Linked DNA regions of Homo sapiens: regions 1 and 2 are each linked to region 3. Evidence: fine-mapped expression QTL. A gene starts in region 3. Each other region holds a variant in brackets. All regions are shown on one strand. Distances are between the middles of the regions. Region 1 overlaps TMEM161A (transmembrane protein 161A). Region 2 overlaps SUGP2 (SURP and G-patch domain containing 2). Region 3 holds the start of SUGP2 (SURP and G-patch domain containing 2).

Region 1 (5,288 bases), 100 kb before region 3:
GGAGCCCTGCTCTCGCTACAGGACCTCCGAGGGAGTCGGCGGGAGTTGTACCCAGGGGGACTAGAAGCCCCTAAGCGTTCTGGGGATTCTGCCCTCGAGACCTTTTAGGGGTCTGGGATCCTTTTGAGGGGTCGTGGTCCCACAGAGGGGACTGGGGACCCCAGCACATTTGGAACCTGGTTAAGGCGGTGTGGGGTCCTGTTGGGGGTCCACTCTGGGGACGGGGGTCCTGCAGGAGCGTGGGGGCCGCGCCGACAGGATCCATCGGGGGTCCCTGCTATATCGGGGTGTGTGGAACGGGCAGGGGAGGCCGTGGGAGGTGGACTCAGGAGGTCTGGTTGGCCTCAGGGCGGGCAAGGTTCTCAGAGTGGGAGACAGGAAAGTTGGAACCTTCAGGTCTCACGCGGCTCTGGGTCCAACCTATTGAGTGTGTTCTTAAAACTTAGCCCAGCCCCTGGGGGTCAGGCTGGTGCAGGGAGATGGGGGACTCCCACAACCCTGACGGGACCGGCCTGGGCAGAGAGAGGGACGTGGAACTGGAGGGTCTCTGCCTGGGACCATCCCCGAGGAGGGGCGCTGGAGATGGCCCTGAAGGAAGGGCACTGATGGCCGGAATTATTGAAAGTGGGGCGTCGTCCCAGGCGGAGGTGCAGGACGCCGTAGGAGATGAAGGCACAGGCTCCCGGGAATGAGGAGGGAGGCTGCATTGATTTTATCAGGGTTCTTGAGTTCGAGAATCGTAAATCCAGTGAAGGGAAAAGAAGGAGCTGATGGAAGACTCCAGAAAATTCTTGCAGATGTCTGCAGAGCCCTGACCCTGAGACAGGAGGCTGGGTGGAGGGCAGGGCCATCAGAACATCCCTGGACAGACCTCTGGGAGCCTTAGGTGGAGAGATGCACCCCTCCACCACCTTTTCCCTTGGGGGGTTTTGGGGGGTGGTGGGGTCATTGATGAAGAGCCCAAAGGTCCAGGAAGACCTCTGAGACTCCAGTGGTTGGGTGCAGGGAGGGCTGAGGAGAGAGCTGAGCTGTGGGGAGGTGGAGGGATGGTCTCTAGCTATGCCTGCAGGGTGCAGAACCAAGTTGGGGGCTGACTGTGAGACTGGGAAGGGCCTGAACCACCTGGAAGGGTATGGGATGATGGGTGAGTGCTAGGGTCTCCCAGGAGAGCCTGGAGGAGGCTACTGGTTGAGCTCAGCAGAGAGGTCTGGGCTGGAGGTGTCACCGTGCTGAGGTTTTGATGGGCTGGCTGATTGGGTGGTTAAAACCCTGGCAGGTCACAGGAGAGAGGTCGGAGAGAGAGGAGAAAAACAGACTGGGGGGTGGGAGGGCAGGGTCCTAGGGGAAGGGTGGGGCTTCAACAGCCCTGACCCACTGGCTTGCAGGGGCCCATGGGCTGGCACTCATGGTCCCTAAGTGCCAGCCAGCCAGTCTGCACTAGGGTCCCGGGGAGGGCGAGCAATGAGGACTTAGAGATGAGAAAGATGCCGCCACCAACCTCATTACTGAAAAAAGATTTCTGGTCTCAGTTTACAAGTCACAGGTACAGAGAAAATGTCCTATTAGTCTGTTATTTTATGTATTTTTATTTTATTATTATTATTATTTTGTTTTGAGACAGAGTCCCACTCTGTTGCCCAGGCTGGAGTGCAGTGGCACAATCTCGGCTCACTGCAACCTCTGCCTCCCAGGTTCAAGCAATTCTGCTGCCTCAGCCTCCCAAGTAGCTGGGATTACAGGCGCCCACCACCATGTCTGGCTAATTTTTGTATTTTTAGTAGAGACAAGGTTTCATCATGTTGGCCAGGCTCGTCTCAAACTCCTGACCTCAAGTGATCAGCCCGCCTCAGCCTCCCAACATGCTGGGATTACAGGCACGAGCCACCGCACCTGGCCTCAGCAGTCATTTTGAATTACCGTGCTAGGCCCGGTACCCATCACATTAGGGTTTTTCCGACTAAATTTAGCTTATTTATGCCTGATTAAAGGATTATTTTCATAATTAATTTTACTATTAAATAAACTTTATTTCATTTTGATGATAATTCCAGAACACTAGTAGACAGCTCTCCTGAGCACATAATTTTACATAATTATGTAATTACTGGCAGCAAATGGGTATTTACTGCATTCAAGCAGGAAAACCCAGCTTCACCACAGACTGATTCTTCTAAAACGTTTAAAAATAAGTATATGAAAATGTGTTCTGAATTAAGAACTGGGTGAGAAAATTCCTAATTAAAAAAAAAAAAAGCCTTAGCTGGGTGTGTTGGCACATGACTGTAGTCCTAACTACTCGGTAGGTTGAGGTGGGAGGATCACTTGAGCCCAGGAGTTTGAGACCAGCCTGGACAACATAGCAAGACCCCATCTCTAAAAATAAAAATAAAAATAGGCCGGACACAGTGGCTCACGCCTGTAATCCCAACCGTTTGGGAGGCCAAGGCAGGAGGATTGCTTGAGCCTAGGAGTTCAAGACCAGCCTGGCAACATGGAGAAACCCTGTCTCTACAAAATAGACAAAAATTAGTTGGGTATGGTGGCGAGTGCCTGTAATCCCAGCTACTAGGGAGGCTGATGTGGGAGAATCACTTGAGCCTGGGAGGTTGAGGCTGCAGTGAGCACCCCAGCATGCCACTGCACTCCAGCCTGGGTGACAGAGCAAGACCCTGTTCTCCCCACCACTCCCTTGCCAAAAAAATAAATAAATAAATAAAAATAAATAAGCTCACCCCACTCAGACATGTAGGTCTTCACACCAAAACAGGAGGTGGCCAGGAGCATAGACGCCCTTTCAAGGAGGTTAATTACAAAGGGAAGAAGAGGGAGGAGGGTGATGGAACCATCAGGGATCACTTAAGGTGGGAGACACTTAGGGGAAGGAGCTACCAGGTGAAGGAGAAAGCTAGAAGCTCAACCGAGACGCAGTGGCTCCCTAGGTGACAGTGTGGGGTGCAGAAGGCGGTGGGAGCCGCTTTCACTGAGTGTGGCGGGCTCGTGGTTAGGGGCTGGAAGGTGGTGGTGAGGAATACAGGAGACTACATAGGAAGCACCCATTTCCAGATGAGAAAACTGAGACTCCGGGAAATTAATATTATACCTGAATCCATAGCGGAGGCGGGAGGCAAATCCCATGGTCTCCACTGCCCTACACTCCCGCTAGGTGGTGAGGGTGGGTGTTGATCTCTGACGTGGGAGGGCAGGGCCATGCTAGGTGAGTCCAGACTCACCCCAGGACTCTCCCCTAAGAAGCCGCTAGAGCCTAAGAGGCTCGCCCTTCCCCCATCCAGCCTGACTTCTCTATAAA[T/C]AGCCTGGGTTCCTAGGGAGGGAGGGAACTTGTGACCCTCTGGCAGGTGCTGCCAGTCATGTCCCCTCCCCCCAGGCGGTCCTCGGAGTACAGCTGGTGGTGACCCTGCTCACTGCCACCCTCATGCACAGGCTGGCGCCACACTGCTCCTTCGCGCGCTGGCTGCTCTGTAACGGCAGGTGAGCCCCGCCCCGGCGGTGGGAGGGGCCCGCGGAGTCACGCCCCCTTCTGGCTCCCCACGCCCCGCCTCACAAATTGCAAAGCCTTGATTTTGGTTGGTGGGTGGTGGGGGGAAAAACGTTGTTGAGGTGTAATTGAAGTACAACAAACTGCATATATTTGTTTTTTCTTTTTCTTTTTAGAGACAGGGTCTCACTCTGTTACCCAGTCTGGAGTGCAGTGACCTGATCATAGCTCACTGCAACCTCAACCTCCTGGGCTCAAGTGACCCTCCTGCCTCAATCTCCTGAGTAGCTGGGACTACAGGTGTGCGCCACCATGCCCAGACAATTTTTAAATTTTTAATAGAGATGGGGTCTTGCTAAGTTGCCCAGGCTGGTCTCAAACTCCTAGGCTCAAGCGATCCTACCACTTTGGCCTCCCAAAGTGCTGGGATTACAGGCGTGAGTTCCCATGCCTGACACAAACTGTATATATTTGAAGTACACAGTTGGACTAGTTTTGACAGGTGTACACATGTGTGGAACCATCACCACACTCCCCACGTCCCTCACTCTTCCTGCCTCCCTGTAACCCAGCCTTCCTTCCACCCCTGCATCTGCTAGAGCTCGCCTGCTCTGGTTTTTGTCCTTGCGTGGGTCTGTGATGCTTTCTGAGAATCTGGTGGCAACTGAATTCTCTCCTGAGAAAAATGTATGTGACAAAAACAAAGGCAAAAAAAAAAAACACGTCAGAGATGATAGCTCAGGCCCATAATCCCAACACTGGGGGAAGCCAAGGTGGGAGGATCACTTGACCAGCCTGGGCAACATGGCAAGACCCTGTCTCTACAAAATATTTTAAAAATTAGCCAGGTATGGTGGCTCACGCCTGTGATCCCAGCTAATCAGGAGTCTGAGGCAGGAGGATCGTTTGAGCCCAGAAAGTCAAATCTGCAGTGAGCTGAGATGGTGCCACTGTACTCCAGCCTGGGCGACAGACCAAGGCCTTCTCTCAAAAACAAAAAACAAAGGCCGGGCGAGGTGGCTCACACCTGTAATCCCAGCCCTTTGGGAGGCCGGGGCGGGTGGATCACTTGAGGTCAGGAGTTTGAGACCAGCCTGGCCAACATAGTGAAACCCTGTCTCTGGTAAAAATACAAAAATTAGCTGGGCATGGTGGCGCATGCCTGTAGTCCCAGCTCCTCGGGAGGCTGAGGCAGGAGAATCACTTGAACCGGGGAAGTGGAGGTTGCAGTGAGCCAAGATCATGCCACTGCACTCCAGTCTGGGTGACAGAGGGAGACTCTGTCTCAAAAAGAAAATGAAAAAGAAAAGAAAAGTTGCACACACTGGCTTCCCCAGGAGAGTTAGCCAGCAGATTCAGGGGTATCCAAGCCCCCGGAGCCCACTCAGCCTAGATCTGTTGGTCTCACGATTTCCCCAGAATTTCCCCATGCTGTACCCTCACCTACCTCCCAGTGTTCCCCTGGCCTAGGCTACCCTCTAACTAGAATCCCTGGATTTGGGGTTCACTGCCTCAACCTCCCAACCCCACGCCTGAGCTTCCCTGACTGCCCGTCCTTGCTCTCAGTTTGTTCCGATACAAGCACCCGTCTGAGGAGGAGCTTCGGGCCCTGGCGGGGAAGCCGAGGCCCAGAGGCAGGAAAGAGCGGTGAGTGACCTGGGCCCCAGCCCCAGCCTTGGGAGGGTGGCTCCTCCCCAGGAACGGCCTCACCCCTGCTCAGGGGGCTCTGGGCTCAGGGACACAGGACCGGCCCACCCATACTTCCAGGCGCTGATCTGGGCACAGGTGAACCGGG
Region 2 (10,638 bases), 38 kb after region 3:
TAACCTTGGCGTGTAACCCCTGAGCCACGGATTTGTCTGTAAAATGGGATGGCCACACTTACCCAGCAGGTAGGAGGTACAGTGAGGATTAAACTGAACGCGGTTCCTGGTGGGTGTCCTGCACATGCTGCTGTCTCCTTGGGGCTCTGCACCTGTCCTCCTGTCTGCCAGTGACTGTGGGTGGAAGGGAGGCCGTGGTGGCTGCAGCTTTCCTCTGCAAACCTCCACCTCGCCCACAGGGCTTGGCTTTCCTCCAGCTGTCCAGGAAACCACCATCATGATTGTTAAACACAGATTTGAACATTCACGAAGAAACTTCCAGGCTGAGCCAAACCCTCTTCCTCCCACTGCACCTCCAAGCAGCCTTCCTGAAAGGGAAAAGAGTACAGACCTGCCCTCTGGGGACCCCTGTGCCCTGCCATGACCAGCCTTTCCCCTTCCTTCCCTACCCGTCATCCCAGGGCCCAGGTCGTGCACAGCTCCCAGAAGGGCCTGACGGATGCCCCGTTTCTCATCTCAGCCGGTGGGTTCTGTCACCTCTTTTCTCCAGGCCACTTTCTCATGGCAAGGGGCCCCCCAGTGTAGCAGGTCCTGTCTGGTGTCCCCTGGTTTGCAGGGGTGTCTCTTCACTGTTTGTGCCCCTCTTCCTGTCCCAGCCCATAGCATAGCTCCTCCCTTCATACCTCCCCTCCTTAACTGCCCTGCAGAGACACTTCTGCCCACACCGCCTCACCAAGACCACCTCATGCCATTATGGAGGGGCCGCCTGCATCCAGTAACTCACGCACACACACAAGATACACACATGTGCACGCATATGCACACACACATGCATACACACACGCACACACACATGCATACACACACACAGCTACTTTATATAATACCCTCGGAGATGCCTCTGAAGAGAACAAAGGGAATTTCCCTCCGCCTTTGAAGGTCCAAGTCTAAGCCTGTTGAAATGAACTGACAATAAGAAGATTAACAGGATAAAAAAAGGTGTGCGGTGGCTTACACCTGTAATCCCGGGACTTTGGAAGGCCAAGGCAGGGGGATCACTTGAGCCCGGGAGTTCAAGACTGCAGTGAGCCATGATGGAGCCACTGCACTCCAGCCTGGGTGACAGAGCAAGATCCTGTCTTGAAACAAAAAAGTTATACATATTTATTCACGTGCATAAGCACAGGAGCCATATAAAACATTATGAAAACTCAAAGAAGGGCCAGGTGGTTGAAGCTGAAATACCTCTTTGTAGGGGAGAGGGCAGATGGGAGGCTGTAGGTAACTTTAGAGGGGAAGCAGATGATTTTAGGAGAGATGAATGGAGGCAGGCATCATCTTGTGAATGATCCTCATTGAGAATTGAATGGGACTAGAGAACAGCCAGTGGTCTGGGCTCTAGGTGTGGTGTTTAATGTTCCATCTCTTCTTGTGTGATAGGAGTTTTCAACTCTGGTTAATGACATTTCAGGGAAGGGATCCAAGGCCCTTGTGTTCTTCTTTGGCAAGTCCAGTTTCTAGGTAGATAGGGAACTTGAAGAAAACAGCTTCCTCCTGTGCTTTGGGAGGGACCTTGAGGCTGCTACTTTAGTCCCACCTGTCAAAGTGCTATAATTCGGGGTATCGCTTTCTTTCTTTCTTTCTTTTTTTTTTTTTTTTTTTTTGAGACGGAGTCTCCCTTTGTCGCCAAGGCTGGAGTGCAATGGCATGATCTCAACTCACTGCAACCTCTGCCTCCCAGGTTCAAGGGATTCTCCTGCCTCAGCCTCCAGAGTAGCTGGGATTACAGGGGCGTGCCACCACACCTGGCTAATTTTTGTATTTTTAGTAGAGATGGGGATTCACCATGTTGGTCAGGCTGGTCTCAAACTCCTGACATCGTGATCCACGCACCTTGGCCTCCCAAAGTGCTGGGACTACAGGCGTGAGCCACCGCGCCCAGCCTTAGGGTATCCGTTTCTGACCCCCTACATCTTGCTGCATGTTGAGTTCTCAGCACCTCTCCAGGTTGTTTTGTCCCTTTCTAGGGTGAGAACACTGAGGCCCCAGGAGCTCCAGAGGCCCAGGCCTTCCTTATGGGAGCACTTGCTCTCTCCTCCCTCCCTCCCTCCTGACCTGAGGCCCTGCTCTCTCCCTTCTCCCTTTCCTCTCCCAGCCCCTGGCTCCCCCAGGCTCAGCCTTTTGTGCCTTGTCTCCAAGCTCCTTTGTCTCTGGAGTGCCTCCCACATGCACCCCTAACGTTAGGGAAGCTGATTCCTGGGCACCTCAATGCAGATGGCAAGGGGGGGATTTGTCTTTTGGTTGAATTATACCTCGTGAGGCCTGCATGACATCATGGGGCAGGTTGCTAAGCTGATGAGGGCTGACTGCCCAAAGACCTGAGCTCACAGCACTCAGCATGCCCTTCTCACCCTGCTTCCCATGCCCAGGGTCATCTAACCCTCTCCCAGCCACTCCCACCTGTCCCCTGCTCAGACCCCCAGCACCAGCCCCCGTGATCCTCCTCAGCACCTTCCTCCCTCCCTCTCAAGAGCACATGAACCCTCACAGCCTCCCCAGGTCGTTCAGTAAATGCCTTAAATAAATACATCAGCCAGGCGCAGTGGCTCATGCCTGTAATCCCAGCACTTTGTGAGGCTGAGGCGGGCAGATCAGCTGAGGTCAGGAGTTTGATCAAGACCAGCATGGTTAACATGGCGAAACCCCGTCTCTACTAAAAATACAAAAATAGGTGGGCGTGGTGGCACACGCCTGTAATCTCAGCTACTCGGGAGGCTGAAGCAGGAGAATCGCTTGAACCCAGGAGGCGGAGGTTACAATGAGTTGAGATTGCATCACTGCACTCCAGCCTGGGCAACAGAGCAAGACTCCGTCTTAAAAAAAAAAAAACATCAAAAGCTGGGTGCAGTGGCACATACCTATAGTTCCAGTTAATGGGGAGACTGAGGTGGGAGGATCACTTAAAGCCGGGAATCCGAGACCAGCCTGGGCAACATAGCAAGACTCTATATTTAAAAAAAACACACACAAGTTTTGTATTTTGTTTCTTTTTTTAGACAGTCTCATTGTGTTGCCCAGGCTGGAATGCAGTGGCACGGTCTCCGCTCACTGCAACCTCTGCCTCCCAGGTTCAGGCGATTCTCATGCCTCCGCCTCACAAGTAGCTGGGATTACAGGTGCCTGCCACCATGCCTGGCTAATTTTTGTATTTTAGTAGAGACGGGGTTTTGCCACGTTGGCCAGGCTGGTCTGGAACTCCTGACCTCCAGTGATCCACCCACCTCGGCCTCCCAAACTGCTGAGATTACAGGCATGAGCCACCACGCCCAGCCCACCCACACAAGTTGACTCGTGAAGAGCCAAGGAATACATGGCAAGGTCTTGGACTGCCCAGCTGGGCTCTGTCACACAGCAGTGTGTCATGAATATTCATGAGTGAATAGAAATTCCTTCTGCTACAGCCCTGCAGGCTCCTCCTCCAGAGGCCCCAGGGCCCTGTCTGTCTCCAGATCTCCATCTAGTGGCCCAGAGATTGCTGCACTTCCCCACCACCCACAGGAGCAATCAACAGCTGTACTAGCTCTCAGTGAGGTCTGCTCTGTGCTAGACACAGACCCCAATGTCCAAGTAGAACTCAGTCCTGAGGACAGACAGACAATGCAGCCAGGGAGTGAATGAAGCACTCGGGGAGGGGTATGTTGGGGTGGTTCAGGGAGGGTGCTGCCAGCCAGTTCTCACCCACTGTCTGGCCCCCATCCTGCCTGCAGGCCTGTGCCCTGGTGCCCCCCACTCTTCCCTGGGCTGCGCCCTGTGGTCATCACAGGGCCACCCTTCTTTATCCAGGGTTCCGCTGAGGGCCTTCCTACTGACTCCTTGACCCCGGGACTGGCCATTCCCTTACCCAGTTTTCCTCACAGTCTTGGCACCAGGGTTATAGTGGTAGCTGAGAGGCACGACTGACCTCAGGCCAGTGACCTCTGACTTAGAAGTTCCATCCCACCCAGGGATGTTGCAGAGAACTGGGGAAGTGACTGGAGCTTGAGCCTGAGCATCTGGGGAGTCAGGAGGGCATTTGGGGGTGAGGGGCTCCAGGCATAGCCTAGGACAGACCCTTGATCCAGGCATCTCCCTGTGGCCCACATGCCTGGACTCTCCTCTCTCCTCAGAAACCCAAGGACTTGGACTTCGCCCAGCAGAAGCTGACCGATAAGAACCTGGGCTTCCAGATGCTGCAGAAGATGGGCTGGAAGGAGGGCCATGGCCTGGGCTCCCTCGGAAAGGGCATCAGGGAGCCGGTCAGCGTGTACGCAGCAGGCAGCCTGGGGTGGGAGTGGGTGGGGCCTCAGTCCTTCCACCTGCAGCCTGCCGCTTGGCTCCTTCACAGCCAAGATGGCTTACAGCTGGCAGTTGATTTTTGTTTTTTAAACAGAAGGCATCTTCAGATGAGAAGCTGATCATTTACATGTGCAGGTGTTTACAGGGCTCCTTTCTGTCCTGGTGTAGATTTTTTAACCAGCTTGTTGGCCCTGGTCATTTTGGCCACATTTGTGACCATCATAAAAGCTAAGTGGTATTTCTGTGTAGTTTCCGTCTGGAACTGCTTTCCCATTCCCGGGAACCCATAGCCGGGCCAGCCAGGGTCCCGAACACAGGCCCAAAGTTTATTAAACCC[C/T]GATCATAACCTCCAGCAGGCATTTCATTTAATACTGAGCTTAGTTCCTGCTGGGTAAGGCATTCCGAGGTAACCAGGGCCCTCTGGGCACCCCCTCAAAAGCCAGCTCTTCGAGGGTGAGTACTCCTTGTTTCTACTGTGAGTCGCGTCTTGATTTTCCCTTTCTTTGATGTCTCAGTGTGTGTCCCAAACACCTGCATCTCATGGACTGTTTGTGCCCATGCCCAGTTCCTGGCATGCCAGGCCCTGGGCTCAGGTGCACAACTGACTCTCTTTTTCACTCCCTAGGGGAACCCCCTCGGAAGGGGAAGGGTTGGGTGCTGACGGGCAGGAGCACAAAGAAGACACATTCGATGTGTTCCGACAGAGGATGATGCAGATGTACAGACACAAGCGGGCCAACAAATAGGTATGTTCACAGGCCAGTGTGTAAGGCCGTCTGCCCTCGCTGGCGTGCTGGTATGCAGAGAAATTTCCCCCAACAAAGTTGATGTTCCCTGCTCCCCCAAAAATGCCACACACAAAAAAAATCACAAAATTCTGTGAGGGAAACAAAAGGGTCTATGGATGTGGATATGCCCCATTCTTACCTTCCAGGTTTGCTGAAGGAGCAAACCTCACACTGGCCAAGGGCAGATGCGCATGGCCTGCCTGGTGCCCCGGCTGTGAGCCCCTCAAGGCCTCCAGGCCAGCCTCCGTGGATGTGCGTGTGGAAATAGGCCACGCCTGTCTCTTCTCTTGCTCAAGTTTTCTCTCACAGATGACAGCCACCTACCACATAACATGACCAGCAAACGGACTGTTCCTAGTCCAGAGGGCCTTGCCATCATGCAAGTGGAAGGGCGACTGTGACAGCCACTGCCACAGAGGATGGCAGTTGGCTGTGTCCCTTTGTGAGGGTCTTCAAATCCTTTTCCTTCTGCAGGGCCTTGGGCCTGTAAATATCCTCATCTTTCTATTCTTTTTTTTTTTTAGTTGCCCCCTCACCTAATTTCCACCTCAGTTTTGAACAAAATCGTTCTCTTCCTGAATAGATCAAAACCACTGATGTGAAAGATAAGCCTTGAAGCAGCAATTGCCCTTAAAACATCATCCCTGCCCTGGATCGGCCTGGAGCCAGTGCCCAAGTACGGTTTGGTGTGTACATGAAAACAAACGTCTCTGCAGTCTCTGGGGCGGAGGTTTCGCTGGCTTTTCTTTCTCTCAAAGAAAAAAACATGCACCATTTTCAATGTGCTTTTGCCTCTCCTCTCTGTTCACATGCTTTTAGCAGCAAGTCCCCTCCAAATCTGTCTTGGTTCCCCTTCAGAAGGTGGCGCTGCCCCCGAAAGGCACCTCAGCCTGTGAGTGCTGAGGAACCAGCTCCTCTGGCTGATTTTCCAGTTGGACTGGCCATTGCTCTCCAGAAGTGCTCTGTTAGCAAACGTGATGTGGAAACGATCACAGATGGTGTTTTCTCGTTGTTCGCCAGAATTTATACGGGGGAGACAAATTCCCGGTAATTACCAAGTCTGCACTCGGGTACCAAAGCTCTGAAGCTCTCTGAACAGTTGCCATACTTGAGTTGATGAATGTGTTATTCATGGTGTCTCATCTCATCAATGCATCTTGAGAGACTTAATGAAATTTTAGCAACAGTATAGAATAGCTCTATCGGGTGGGGAGTAATCATTAAACAGATGAAATCGGCCCCAGATTTACATGTCTCTTTAGAATCCACAGTGTAAGCAAACTACAGTTACAAAGGGATGGGGGTTGTAAACCCTCTGAGACTCTGCACTTTTCGCACGTATGGCATCGTCAAGTGCTGTCTTATTACAGCCTTTGTAAGGAGAGGCAGGCTCCTCCTGGGGTGGGCTCTGCAGCTGCTCTATTTCCAGGCATGTGATCGCCCCCGCTCTCCAGATTCCCCAGCACTCTGCTGCGTGTAACTCCACTCAATTCTCCACTCATCCTTCCTTGTGAAGCAGGATCGTTGAAGTTTTAAGTATGGGCAAAAATCTGGAAAACTTAGGATCCCTCTGACACCCCAGGATTAGGGGACACAGCAGTGGCTAGGGCATCAGCCACAGAACTGAGCGGGAAATGCCACTTGTATTGGCTGTAAAGAAATCCTGGCTTTGGGCCAGGCACAGTGGCTCAAGCCTGTAATCCCAGCACTTTAGGAGGTTGAGGCGGATGGATCACCTGAGGTCAGGAGTTTGAGACCAGCCTGGCCAACATGGTGTAACCCCGTCTCTACTAAAAATACAAAAAAATTAGCCAGGCGTGGTAGCGGGCACCTGTAATCCCAGCTACTCAGGAGGCTGAGGCAGGAGAATCACTTGAACCGGGGAGGCAGAGGTTGCAGTGAGCTGAGATCATGCCACTCCACTCCAGCCTGGGCGACAGAGCAAGACTCCATCTCCAAAAAAAAAAAAAAAAAAGGCCGGCACGGTGACTCACGCCTATAATTCCAGCACTTTGGGAGGCCGAGGCAGGTGGATCACGAGGTCAAGAGATCGAGACCATCCTGGCCAACATGGTGAAACCCTGTCTCTACTAAAAATGCAAAAAATTAGCTGGGCGTGGTGGCGGGCGCTTGTAGTCCCAGCTACTCAGGAGGCTGAGGCAGGAGAATCACTTGAACCCGGGAGGCGGAGGTTGCAGTGAGCCGAGATTGTGCCACCGCACTCCAGCCTGGCAACAGAGCGAGACTCTGTCTCAAAAAAAAAAAAGGAAATCCTGGCTTTCTTTAAGCCACAGACTTCCTAGGCTGTGGTCCCAGCTCCTTGTCTGCCTGGTCCCTGTCACCTTGCAGTGCCACCACCCCCAGGGGCTCTGCTTGCTTCCAGTGGCTTCTGTAGCTTTGGCAACTGGCAGATCTTTATGGCAGTAGAGGTGCCAGCATGGAGGATGGAGTTTGGGTTTATAACCCAACCCTCGAACGAACCAGCCTGTGGGGGCCTGGAGTGGAGCTGGTTTTGGGGAGTCACAGGTGCGGGGGGTTCATCTTCTCCTTTCTCCTTCTCCTTTCCTGACCCCTCCGACAGCTTCCATGTTGGCCATGGGTCAGGTGAATGGATGGAGCTCCAAGCGGGGCTCAGCCCATTGACCCGAGCGAGGCGCACACACCTGCAGCGTGGATCAAGCGCACTCTCTCCAGCATCGCCCTGACCATTCCATGTGCTTTGTCCTAGCATGTTCATTCTTGACTTTCTCCACTTCATTTTATTAAAAAGTTAAATGCTTTAGGAATCTGTGGCGTGTGGCCACTGACCGCCCCCCACCTCCTGCCGCTCCTCCAAGTTTGAGCTGAGATGGTTCTGTGAGTCCTTGGCAGGGGTCAAAGGGCACATCTCCTTGAACCTAGAAAGCCCCCTACACTCTCAGAGGACACCTCTCCTGTGGATTCAGCGCTGGGGCAGTGAAGGTGTCGGGAGCCAGCAGAGCATGGTGCGTGCTGCCAGCTGCCGGCCAGCCGGGATAGAGGAGATGCCACTGGCCCTCCGTGCCCCCAGCCCCTCCCTCTTAACCGAGGCTGTCCTTGCTCTCTGCAGAGGCCGCTCTGCAGGATCCTCGTGTCGCGCGTGATGTGTGGTGGCACAGCCGTGTCAAAGTCACAGTGTCTTTTCTGTCGTTCTAGTTCCAGGGTCACCCCCGAGAGGACAACAGGCATCTGGAAGTGCTCTCTCGCCACTCTGGGTGCTTTACTGTCTCTGGCTTGTTTCCATCACTGGAAATCACTTAGAGAATTGTAGTGTTTTTGGTCCTTGATAAAGCCTAGAAGACATTTGTGATGTTACAAAATGGAAGTTTTCTTTTGTTTCTGTTTTTTAAGATCTAAGAAGTTGTGAATGTTGTTAATCATTTAGCCGTTGCAATAAATGTAGAGGAAATGCAGTGTGCTGGGGTCTCCATGGCTGTGTTTTTAAAATCAGATCAGACACCAGCGCACGCAGATGGGAGTGCAGTGTAGAACCAGATGATGGCTGCCTCCCAGGACGTGCCCTCCGCCGGCGTGGTGCTCCTCCCTCGGGCCCCTCCTCACTGGCTTGCCCCACCTGAGGGACCTTGTGTCACTGTCACCAGGAAAGCTTGGAAGATGCCAGAGAGCAGGAAGGGACCAAGCACCCACCAGAGGGAGGGCAATTCCCTTCTGGGGAGGCTGGGGAGGGTAATCGGTACCGCCAAGTACAGAAGCTGCCTTTGAGGGGTGTCAGGGCAGTGGGAGCTGTGCCCCTGCTGCCTACGACTCACCTGTCCCCACAGGGCTTTGCCCCATCATCCCAGGGCTGGGGTTCCAGCTGCCAGAGTAAAACCAGAGCCTGCCTGGGCCACCCTCTGACTGCAGAGCTGCCTCTCTGTCATCTTCACACTCCCTGCTGTCCCTGGGTGCTGCCAGCCTGCCCATGGTTCCTCTGTCAACAGCCCCTTGGCCCTCCAGGTGAGGAGGGGCGTGCAGAGGGCACAGCAGAGACCAAGGCAGCACCCAGGGGGCCTGCAGGGGCCTCTGCCTGACCAGGGTGAGGAGGGGAGGAGCCAGACTGCAGGGAGGGGGAAGGCACTGTGCCCAGGGCAGGTGATGCTCATGTAGAAAGGTCCCTGTGGGCAGCTTAGCGGGAGCCTTGAGACAGAGCCCTTAGGAAGCTGAGGCAGGACCCCCAGCCTCACTTCTACCGTGTCCCGGGGGAAGCTATTGCCAGCCAAGACCCTCACCCTGCCTTCATCTTAGCGATGTCTAACCGCTAGCTTCAGTGGCACTCCCTGAGAAAGGCCGGAGCCTGCAGGGAAAATGTGGGGCTCACCTGCAGGGGGTGAGGAACCACCAGGAATTTCTCTTCAGTAGTGGAACCCTTCTTCCCCTAGTTCCTCTTAATATCACCCTAAGGCCGGTCAGGGTGTCTTAGGAGGACAGGAGGAGTGGTGTCCAGCCCAGGATGCCTGTCCTGGCGTTGACCCAGGCAGGTCACTTGATCTCAGGCCTCAGTTTCCCCTCTACAGACTGGGAAGGATCTCATTTGGAAGGTAAAATCTCCCCTGCTGCCTTGTACTAGGTTGGTGCAAAAGTAATGGCAAAACCTTCAATTACTTTTCCACCAACCTAATAATTTAGGACTAAGTGGAACCACAAGATCCCTGTCATGGCCTTTCTCCTCCCTGGAGCTTCCTTGGGGCAAGACAGGCAGAAGGCGCTGCCAAGAAGCCCCAGTAGCAAAAGCAAGGTGTGGCTTCAGTCCAGGCCTTTGCTGTGCATGCATGCCCACGTACAGATGTGCGCGCATGCATGTTCAAGCAGCACGCGAGGACGTTTTCCTTGTAAAAGATGAAAAACCAAACCCAGATGTATGCGGAATGGAGCACAGAGGCTTTCTCCTCCCATAAGTCAAAACAAATGACAGGACACTCCAAGGGTGCCACTCGGAGACTGCCTTCCTCTCCCCACAGGCTGTCTCAGCAGTCTCCATGGCCCGTGGGAAAAGAGCAGGTATTGGGTTGGCTTCAGAGGATATTCCACATGTAAACAATCGTAGGCACAATCGTGTTTTAGATGGAACCTTTAAAATGCAAATTATACTTCAAGTTCTATTCTGCTCCCTGCTTTTTTTCACTTAAAAAATTTCTGAGGCTGGGCGCGGTGGCTCACGCCTGTAATCCCAGCACTTTGGGAGGTGGAGGTGGGCAGATCACCTGAGGTTGGGAGTTCAAGACCAGCCTGACCAACATGGAGAAACCTCATCTATACTAAAAATACAAAAGTTAGCCAGGCATGGTGGCGCATGCCTGTCATCCCAGCTACTCGGGAGGCTGAGGCAGGAGAATCGCTTGAACCCTGGAGGCAGAGGTTGCGTTTAGCCGAGATCGCGCCACTGCACTCCAGCCTGGGCAACAAGAGCGACCCTTGGTCTCAAAAAAAAAAAAAAAAAATTCTGAAGCCATGTGTGGCAGCCTGTGCTTGTAATCCCAGCTACTGGAGAGGCTGAGGT
Region 3 (8,814 bases):
CAGGAATTCGAGACCAGCCTGACCAACATGGCGAAACCCCGTCTCTACTAAAAATATAAAAATTAACTGGGCGTGGTAGTGGGCGCCTGTAATCCTAGCTACTCAGGAGGCTGAGGCAAGAGAATTGCTTGAACCCGGGAGGTGGAGGTTGCAGTGAGCCAAGATTGCGCCATTGCACTCCAGCCTGGGCGACAGAGCGAGACTCTATCTCAAAAAATAAAACAAAAAACAAGAAACAAAACCTCAGATTCATGAGTCGGACTGAGGCATAAATGACTATTCCTCTACCTGCCCTGTACCCCATATAAATCGTGTATTCTGTGAAAGGCTGACCAAAGACTCAAAAGAAAGCAATCATTTGTCTCTACCTGTGACCATCTTACACATATTCATTTATATCTCACGTCTCCCTAAAATGTATAAAAGCAAGCTGTGCCCCAACCACCTTGGGTACATGTTGTCAGGACCTCCTGAGGCTGTGTCACAGACATGTCCTTAACCTTGGCAAAATAAGCTTTCTAACTGATTGACACCTGTCTCAAATACTTCGGATTCTCAGTCCTCTGTGGAGCTTCTGCCAGCCCTTCCAGGTGGCTGCCTTTCCTGGCCACTCAGAGAGCCCACACTCTCTGGCTTCACTCCCCAACCCACAACCCCTCCCTTCCACCCACCCCTGAGCTGACTGAGTTGGGAAGGTCTGGCTCTGTGACCACCCCTGACCTGAGTCCTCCAAGGTCCCCTAGATCTGGTACAGGGCTGAGTTGGAGGAGGAAAGTACAGATTTGGAACACATAAGATGGTGCCTGGAGATGGCCAAGTAAGAATTACCTGGAGAACAGCCTAGGCTAAAAGGGGGAAGCAGCATTACCAGTCCCTATTATCCATCAGGGCATGCTGAGGGTAAAACAGAAGATGAGTAAGGCCCCTAACTGGCAGCCAGTTTCCTTCTCTCAGCCAGGAATCTGCTCATCAAGAAAACTGTGCTGTCCAGGTGCGGTGGCTCAGGCCTATAATCCCAGCGCTTTGGGAGTCTGAGGCGGGTAGATCACTTGAGGTCAGGAGTTTGAGAACAGCCTGGCCAACATAGCAAAATCCTGTCTCTACTGAAAATACAAAAAATTAGCCAGGGCCGGGCACGGTGGCTCACGCCTGTAATCCCAGCACTTTGGGAGGCCGAAGCGGGCGGATCATGAGGTCAGGAGATCAAGACCATCCTGGCTAACACGGTGAAACCCCGTCTCTACTAAAAAAATACAAAAAAACTAGCCGGGCGTGGTGGCGGGTGCCTGTATTTCCAGCTACTCGGGAGGCTGAGGCAGGAGAATGGCCTGAACCCAGGAGACGGAGCTTGCAGTGAGCTGAGATTGCGCCACTGCACTCCAGCCTGGGTGACAGAACGAGACTCCGTCTCAAAAAAAAAAAAAAAGGCCAGGCAAGATAGTGCACACCGGTAATCCCAGCTACTCAGGAGGCTGAGGCAGGAGATCGCTTGAACTCCTTTTGACTCCGTTTCAAAAAAAAAAAAAATACAAAATTTAGCCAGGTGCGGTGTTGCGCACCTGTAGTCCCAGCTACTCGGGAGGCTGAGGCAGGGGAAGCCCTTGAACCCGGGAGGTGGAGGTTGCAGTGAGTCAAGATCATGCCACTACACTCTAGCCTGGGCGACAGAGAAAGACTCCGTCTCAAAAGAAAATTAAACGTGTGCCATGACATGCTGGGGACTCTAAAAGACTCCATCCACATGTCCCTCTACCAGCCACACCCACTCTGGTTCAAACACCAGCCTCCCCTAAGGGCGGCGTCACCTGCCACTCCCAGAGCCTAGACTCCACCTCACTCACGTGCTCAAAGCCCGGTAGTGGCTTCCCAACCCTCTCAGAACAAAACCCAGCCTCCTTATCCGCACCTTCTCTATCTAAGCCTTCCAAGTTCCTCTTCCCCGCCTTTCTCATCCTTCCCAGCACTCAAGAGACAGCCTTCAAAACCACTTCTAGATAAAGAGCAGCCCTGCTTTCCCGTCCCATCACTCTGTTATTATTTGCACACCATTACCTGTATCTAGAGCAACATCGTTCACTCATTTATTTGTACCCTGTAGCCTCCTTGTCCCCACTGCCTAGGACGGGGCCCGACACGCAGCAGGCACTCAGTGCACAGGTGCTGAATGAATAAATAAAATGAATGAAAATAAAGCGAATGCCAGGGAAGCCGAGGATTTTGTCCCCAGGCGGCTTCTGTAAAATTCTTTCATTTTTTTTTTCCCCCCAAACCACGTACCCGAGGGTCGCGCCAGCCCGACCCTGCGGCACCCCCACTCCCCACTCCGCGCGGGACAGGCCTCGGCAGCCGCAGCGTCTCACCCGGTCTTCGCGGCCACGTGGGGAAAGGTGGGGCGCGCGGTTGTCACCCAGGGAGCCGCCTCTAGCCCCTTCCGGCCGCCGTACGCGCGCAGGCGCTGTGGCGCCCCTAGGCTTGGCCTCCCAGAGACTCGCGGACGCTCACGATAACCAAGGACGACCGCGAACCAAGGTAAAGCCAACGAGGCCACCTCGTGCGCGACGGAGGCGTCTTTGCCGCCCCTTCCGGGACGCTCACGGTGGTCGCCGCCCCCAGCAGGGAAATGTTTTGCCTCCAGAGCGTCCGCCCAGAAGAAGCGGACAGCGCGCTTGCGCAAGAGAGCCGGGCCGCGGCGGCCCGCGCCTGCGCACCAGGACTCGGCGGCGGCTTGCGCCTGCGCGGCGCGGCGCTGCGGAGACCGTTGGTTCATTTGCATGTCCCCGCCTCGCGCGGCGGCGGCGGCGGGTGAGGAGCCTGAGGCGGCGGCGGGGGTGGCTCCGCGCGCGGTGGTCTCGGGGTGAGGCCCGGGCCCTGGCGTCGTCGGTGGGTGGCTCCCGGGGTGGGAAGCTCGGGCTCGGCCTTGGGGGCCCGCCCCGGGCTCCGTGATGGCGTCGCAGGCTCGGCCCTCTGGCTGCGGCGGCGGCCGCGTCCCCGCCGGGTTGGCCTGGGTGGCCGGCTGCGGCCTCCCGGGCCCGGCGCCCCCATTTCCTCGCCCGCAGAGGCCGGGAGACGGCGGGCCGCGTCCACAAAGGCTCATTGGTTCAGTCGTTCATTCATTCCTCCCGAACTCGGAGCGGCCCCCGCTCGGGAGGAGATAACGGCGCCCAGCGCTGCATCGGGCCCTTGCCCTCTTTAGAACCGGTTCAGCCCCCACACCAGCCCCTTTACTGGCTGCCCATTCCATAGGTGGGGAAACGGAAGCACAGAAAGCTTAGAATCGTGTGATTTGAACCTGGGTCACCTGACCCGGGAACCCTGCCCTTTGCCAGCAGAGAACAAGGGGGCGCCCCGGGAAAAGGGCTGAAGGATGGGACTGGGGGAGGCGGGTGGGGGAGGCGGTGATCGTGATGGGAAATGGACCCTACGGGTTGTCTCTTGAAGTTGGAGGTTTTGCGAAGCGGGATATCTTGATGGTTAAGGATGCAGCCCCTGGACCCCAAAATGTTGCTTAATCTTTTTACTCATTCTTCGGGGCTTTGGATGCACGAATACCCTTTTTGCCAGGTTCAAATCTGGGCTGTCTGGTCTTGAATGGGTCGTTGAGTCTGTCTCCCTTTGCCTCCTCACCCTAATGTCATTCATAACAGGACCCGCCTCTTCAGTGGGTGGTTGGGAGATCGCGCAAGGACCCAGCGCAGAATGAACTGTCACTAGTTCATTGTCATTGGTTGGGGGTCCCGCCACTCACTGTCAAGAGGCTTCTTTTAGAAGGGAAGGAAGTTCTCAGAGCCTCTGTGCCCTGCTGAGTCTGTGAATGGGAAAAGAGTGATCCTGGGCCAGGCGCAGTGGCTCACGGCCTGGAATCCCAGCACTTTGGGAGGCCGAAGCGGGCGAATCACTTGAGGTCAGGAATTCAAGACCAGCCTGGCCAACATGGTGAAACTCCATCTCTACCTAAAATATAAAAATTAGTCGGATGCGGTGGCGGACTCCTGTAATCCCAGCTACTCAGGAGGCTGAGGCAGGAGAATTGCTTGAGTCCAGGAGGCGGAGGTTGCAGTTAGCCGAGATCATGCCACTGCACTCCAGCCTGGGCAACAGGGAGAGTCTCAAAAAAAGGAAGAAAAAAAAAAAAAAGATTGATCTCTTCTTTCCTAACCACGATTTGCGAGGGTTGTGGTCCCACCCTTCCTACTCTGTTATGCTCAGTTATGTGTGTTGGTTGACACCTTCCTCCAGCAGATAGAACTGCTTTCACAGAGCTGCTTTTAATGGATTCCAAGGAGATGGGCCCAGAGAAGGTTTGTCTTGCTCCTTTTCAGCCAGCACACACCTGTGAACTTCGTGAGGGCAGAGACCCCCTTAAAAGAGTCCAGACAAGGTGGGCAGATTGCTTGAGGTCAGGAGTTCGAGACCAGCCTGGCCAACCTAGCAAAACCCTGTCTCTACTTAAAAAAAAAAAAAAAAAAGATAAATAAAAAGGGTCCAGCTTGCCTCTGAAGTACCATGCGAGGATTATGGATTACTGCCTCCTTACTTCGAGGATTAAGTGAAATAGAGCAGGTTCTGTGAGCACGCATTTTTTTTTTCTTTGAGACAGTCTCGCTCTGTCCCCCAGTCTGGAGGGCAGTGGCATGATCTCGGCTCACTGCAACCTCTGTCTCCCTGGTTCAAGCAATTCCCATGCCTCAGCCTCCTGAGTATTTGGGATTACAGGCACGTGCCACCATGCCTGGTGAAATTTTTTTTTTTTTTTTTTTGAGACGGAGTCTCACTCTGTTACCCATGCTGGAGTGCAGTGGCATGATCTCGGCCCACTGCAACCTCCGCCTCCTGGGTTCAAGCAATTCTCTTGCCACAGCCTCCCAAGTAGCTGGGATTAAAGGCAGGCACCACCATGCCCGGCTAATTTTTGTATTTTTAGTAGAGACAGGGTTTTGCCATGTTGGCCAGGCTGGTCTCCAACTCCTGACTTTAAATGATCCGCTCACCTCAGCCTCCCAAAGTCCTGGGATTACAGGTGTGAGCCACCACACCCAGCCTGAATTTTTTGTATTTTAGTTTCATCATGTTGCCTAGGCTGGTCTCGAACTCCTGAGCTCAGGTGATCCGCCCACCTCGACCTCCCAAAGTGCCAGGATTACAGGTATGAGCCACCGCGCCCAGCTCCAAGTTGTTGCTCTTAGTGTATTTTTTTCTCTCTCACCATAGGGCAAAATAACATGGCAGCCAGACGAATTACACAGGAGACTTTTGATGCTGTATTACAAGAAAAAGCCAAACGATATCACATGGATGCCAGTGGTGAGGCTGTAAGCGAAACTCTTCAGTTTAAAGCTCAAGGTAAAATAAAGTGTTGTTGTTGTAGTTGTTGTTTTGGTAGGGGTGTATCTTAGGGCCAAGGCAGGAAGATTACAATACCTTGGGCAAATAATACCAGTCCTCTGATCCTTAGTTTCCTTATTTAGGAGGAGGTAAAGGTTTTTATTTTGGTTTGGTTTCTTTTTTGTGATAGGGTCTTACTCTCTCCCCCAGGCTGAAGTGCAGTGGCGCAGTTTTAGCTCACTGCACCCTTGAACTCCTAGGCTCAAGCCATCCTTCCATCTCTGCCTCCCAGAGTGCTGGGATTATAGGCATGAGCCACTGCACTTGGTCAGGGGATAATGTTTTGATCTGTCAGTCATCATTATGTAGTTATCTGGAGCTTCTCACTGGATATCCTCCCCGACCCACCTCAAGACAGTTTTGTTTATTGTTTGTTTGTTTGTTTGTTTGTTTTGAGACGGAGTTTCACTCTTGTCTCCCAGGCTGGAGGGCAATGGAGGGATCTTGGCTCACTGCAACCTCCGCCTCTTGGCTCACTGCAACCTCCGCCTCCTGGGTTCAAGCGATTCTCCTGCCTCAGCCTCCTGAGTAGCTGGGATTACGGGCATGCACCACCACGCCCAGCTAATTTTTCTATTTGTAGTAGAGATGAGGTTTTACCATGTTGGCCAGGCTGGTCTCGAACTCCCGACCTCAGGTGATCCACTTGCCTTGGCCTCCCAAGATGCTGGGATTACAGGCATGAGCCACCGAGCCCAGCCCAGTTTTGTTTTTTGGTGTTTTTTATGTTTTTGTTTTTTTTGTTTTTTGTTTTTTTTAATAGATATGGAGTCTTGCTATGTTTTCAGGCTGGTCTGCAACTCCTGGGCTCAAGTGATCCTCCCACCTCTGCCTTCAGCATGTTGCGATTACAGGCGTGAGCCACTGCTCCCAGCCCCAAGACAGGTTCTTGGATCCATTTCCTGGCTCCATCCCTGTCACCGCTGCCCAGGTTTAAGCTCTACTAGTTCTTTTTTTTTTTTATTTGAGACAGAGTCTTGTACTGTCGCCCAGGCTGGAGTGCAGTGACGTGATTTTGGCTCACTGCGGCCTGTGCCTCCTGGATTCAAGCGATTCTCCTGCCTCAGCCTCCCGAGTAGCTGAGATTACAGGTGCCTGCCACCATGCCCGGCTAATTTTTTTGTATTTATTTTAGTAAAGATGGGGTTTCACTATGTTGGTCAGGCTGGTTTTGAACTCCTGACCTTGTGATCTGCCCGCCTCGGCCTCCCAGAGTGCTGGGAGGATCACAAGGTCAGGAGATCGAGACCATCCTGTGAATGGTGAAACCCCGTCTTTACTAAAAATCAAAAAAAAAAAAAAATTAGCCAGGTGTGGTTGTGGGTGCCTGTGGTCCCAGCTACTTGGGAGGCTGAGGCGGGATAATGCCGTGAACCCGGGAGGTGGAGCCTGCAGTGAGCCAAGATTGCGCTACTGCACTCCAGCCTGGGCGACAGAGCGAGACTCCATCTCAAAAAAAAAAAAAGAAAAAAAATGGCCGGGCGCAGTGGCTCAAGCCTGTAATCCTAGCACTTTGGGAGGCCGAGGCGGGCGGATCACAAGGTCAGGAGATCGAGACCATCCTGGCTAACACGGTGAAACCCTGTCTCTACTAAAAATATTAGCCGGGCGTGGTGGCGGGCGCCTGTAGTCCCAGCTACTCAGGAGGCTGAGGCAGGAGAATGGCGTGAACCCAGGAGGCGGAGGTTGCAGCGAGCCAAGGTTGTGCCACTGCACTCCAGCCTGGGTGACAGAGCAAGACTCCGTCTCAAAAAAAAAAAAATTTATCTGGGCATGGTGGCATGCGCCTATGGCCCTGGCTACTTGGGAGGCTGAGGCAGGAAGTTCGCTTGTGCCCAGGAAGTCGAGGCTGCAGTAAGCTGTGTTTGTGCCATTATACTCCAGCCTGGGCCAAAGAGTGAGACCCTGTCTCAAAAAAAGACGGCCAGGTGCAGTGGCTTACACATGTAATCTCAGCACTTTGGGAGGCCAAGGTGGGCAGATCACCTGAGGTCAGGAGTTTGAGACCAGTCTGGCCAACATGGTGAAACCCCGTGTCTACTAAAAATACAAAAATGTGGCAGGCCCCTATAATCCCAGCTACCCAGGAGGCTGAGACAGAAGAATAGCTTGAACCCAGGAGGTGGAGGTTGCAGTGAGCCGAGATCGCACCACTGCGCTCCAGCGTGGGTGACAGAACGAGACTCCGTCTCAAAAAAAAAAGACAGATTAGGGGGCCGTGGGTGGGAGAGGACTAGAAACCTAGCAGTATGCTAGGTGATTCTGGAACATTTCTGTGTTGCAAAGCAGTCTATCGTTTAGCCTTTCTCTGTTTCTCTGCTCCACTCTGAACTTTTCATCTCCTCATAAAGGGTATGAGAAAATTCTCTTGAGTAGAATCCAGCCATCACTCTCTGTCACTAATGTTCCCTCCCTAATCATGCCATCAATACCAATCATCAATACCTGGGTTATCACAGTGGATTTCTTGCAGGAACATCCACGTCTGTGCTCATCTCCTTTAATCTGTTCCCTGTGCAGCAGCCAGTGAGATCATCCCTCTGCTTAGAACTCTTCACTAGCCTTCTGTCTCTCCCAGAGTAAATTCCAGAGTACCACTGAGGGCCCGACTTGGATCTGGTACTCCTTCTCCATTTGTGTCTCTTATATTAGTGGTTCCCTAACTTTGTAGCACGTTAGCGTCACCTGGGGGCCTTTTAAAAACCCTGATGCCCAGGTCATCCCCTTATTTAATTAAGTAAGAATGTCTGGGGAGGTGGTCCCTGGGGCTCCAGTAGCAGAGTTTGGGAGCTGCCTTCCTACCACTTGGCCTTTCATTCCCTGTGTTCCCTTCTGTCTACATTGGCCCCCTACTGGTCCCACCTCAGGGTCTTGTCCTCATTCCCCCTCTGCCTGGAAGGCTTCCCTTTGTAACTGTACGGTCTGGCTCCTCATGCCAGGCCACTGCTGCTAGATAAAGTGTCAGAGCTATGCAGCGTGACACGGTGGCTCACGCCTGTAATCCCAGCACTTTGGGAGGCCGAGGTGGGCGGATCACAAGGTCAGGAGTTCCAGACCAGCCTGGCCAATGTGGTGAAACCCTGTCTCTACTAAAAATACAAAAGTTAGCCGGGCATGGTGGCGGGTGCCTGTATTCCCAGCTACTCAGGAGGCGGAGGCAGGAGAATCGCTTGAACCTGGGAGGTGGAGGTTGCGGTGAGCCAAGATCGCACCCTTGCACTCCGGCACTCCAGCCTGGGCAACAGAGCGAGACTCTGTCTCAAAAAAAAAAAGAAAAAAAAAAGTGTCAGAGCTACCCTCCTTGACTAGCCTGTCTCAAAATGTCATTGCCTCCTCAGGTTCCCACGTGCTTGATTTGTCTTCTTGGTACTTAACTTGCATCTGATATATTTTTGTTTATTGTCTGGCTCTCTCAACTGACAAGTTTGGAAG

What was found. PIP is the estimated chance that this variant, and not a neighbour inherited with it, causes the effect.
Region 1: its variant is fine-mapped to the expression of SUGP2 in skeletal muscle (GTEx, PIP above 0.99).
Region 2: its variant is fine-mapped to the expression of SUGP2 in whole blood (TOPMed, PIP 0.91).

What each region holds. Positions count from the first base shown.
Region 1 is chr19:19,132,982-19,138,269 of GRCh38, reverse strand. TMEM161A (transmembrane protein 161A) reads left to right here. Exons shown (of 12, transcript NM_017814.3): 2 at 3,383-3,486; 3 at 5,060-5,140. Among named protein-coding and RNA genes, the nearest start is that of TMEM161A, 2.9 kb to the left of the region's middle. RefSeq lists enhancers at 1-64, 1-410. The variant T/C (reference allele first, on the strand shown) is at 3,308.
Region 2 is chr19:18,988,809-18,999,446 of GRCh38, reverse strand. It overlaps SUGP2 (SURP and G-patch domain containing 2), which reads left to right. Exons shown (of 11, transcript NM_001017392.5): 9 at 4,167-4,303; 10 at 4,961-5,081; 11 at 5,707-8,554. The coding sequence ends at 5,081. Among named protein-coding and RNA genes, the nearest start is that of SUGP2, 39 kb to the left of the region's middle. RefSeq lists an enhancer at 9,060-9,560. The variant C/T (reference allele first, on the strand shown) is at 4,673.
Region 3 is chr19:19,027,477-19,036,290 of GRCh38, reverse strand. SUGP2 (SURP and G-patch domain containing 2) reads left to right here and starts at 2,774. Exons shown (of 11, transcript NM_001017392.5): 1 at 2,774-2,854; 2 at 5,209-5,340. The coding sequence starts at 5,220. It overlaps ARMC6 (armadillo repeat containing 6), which reads right to left and starts at 2,688. Exons shown (of 9, transcript NM_001199196.2): 1 at 2,361-2,688; 2 at 2,053-2,160. The coding sequence starts at 2,081. RefSeq lists silencers at 2,685-3,114, 3,535-3,614 and an enhancer at 3,541-4,042.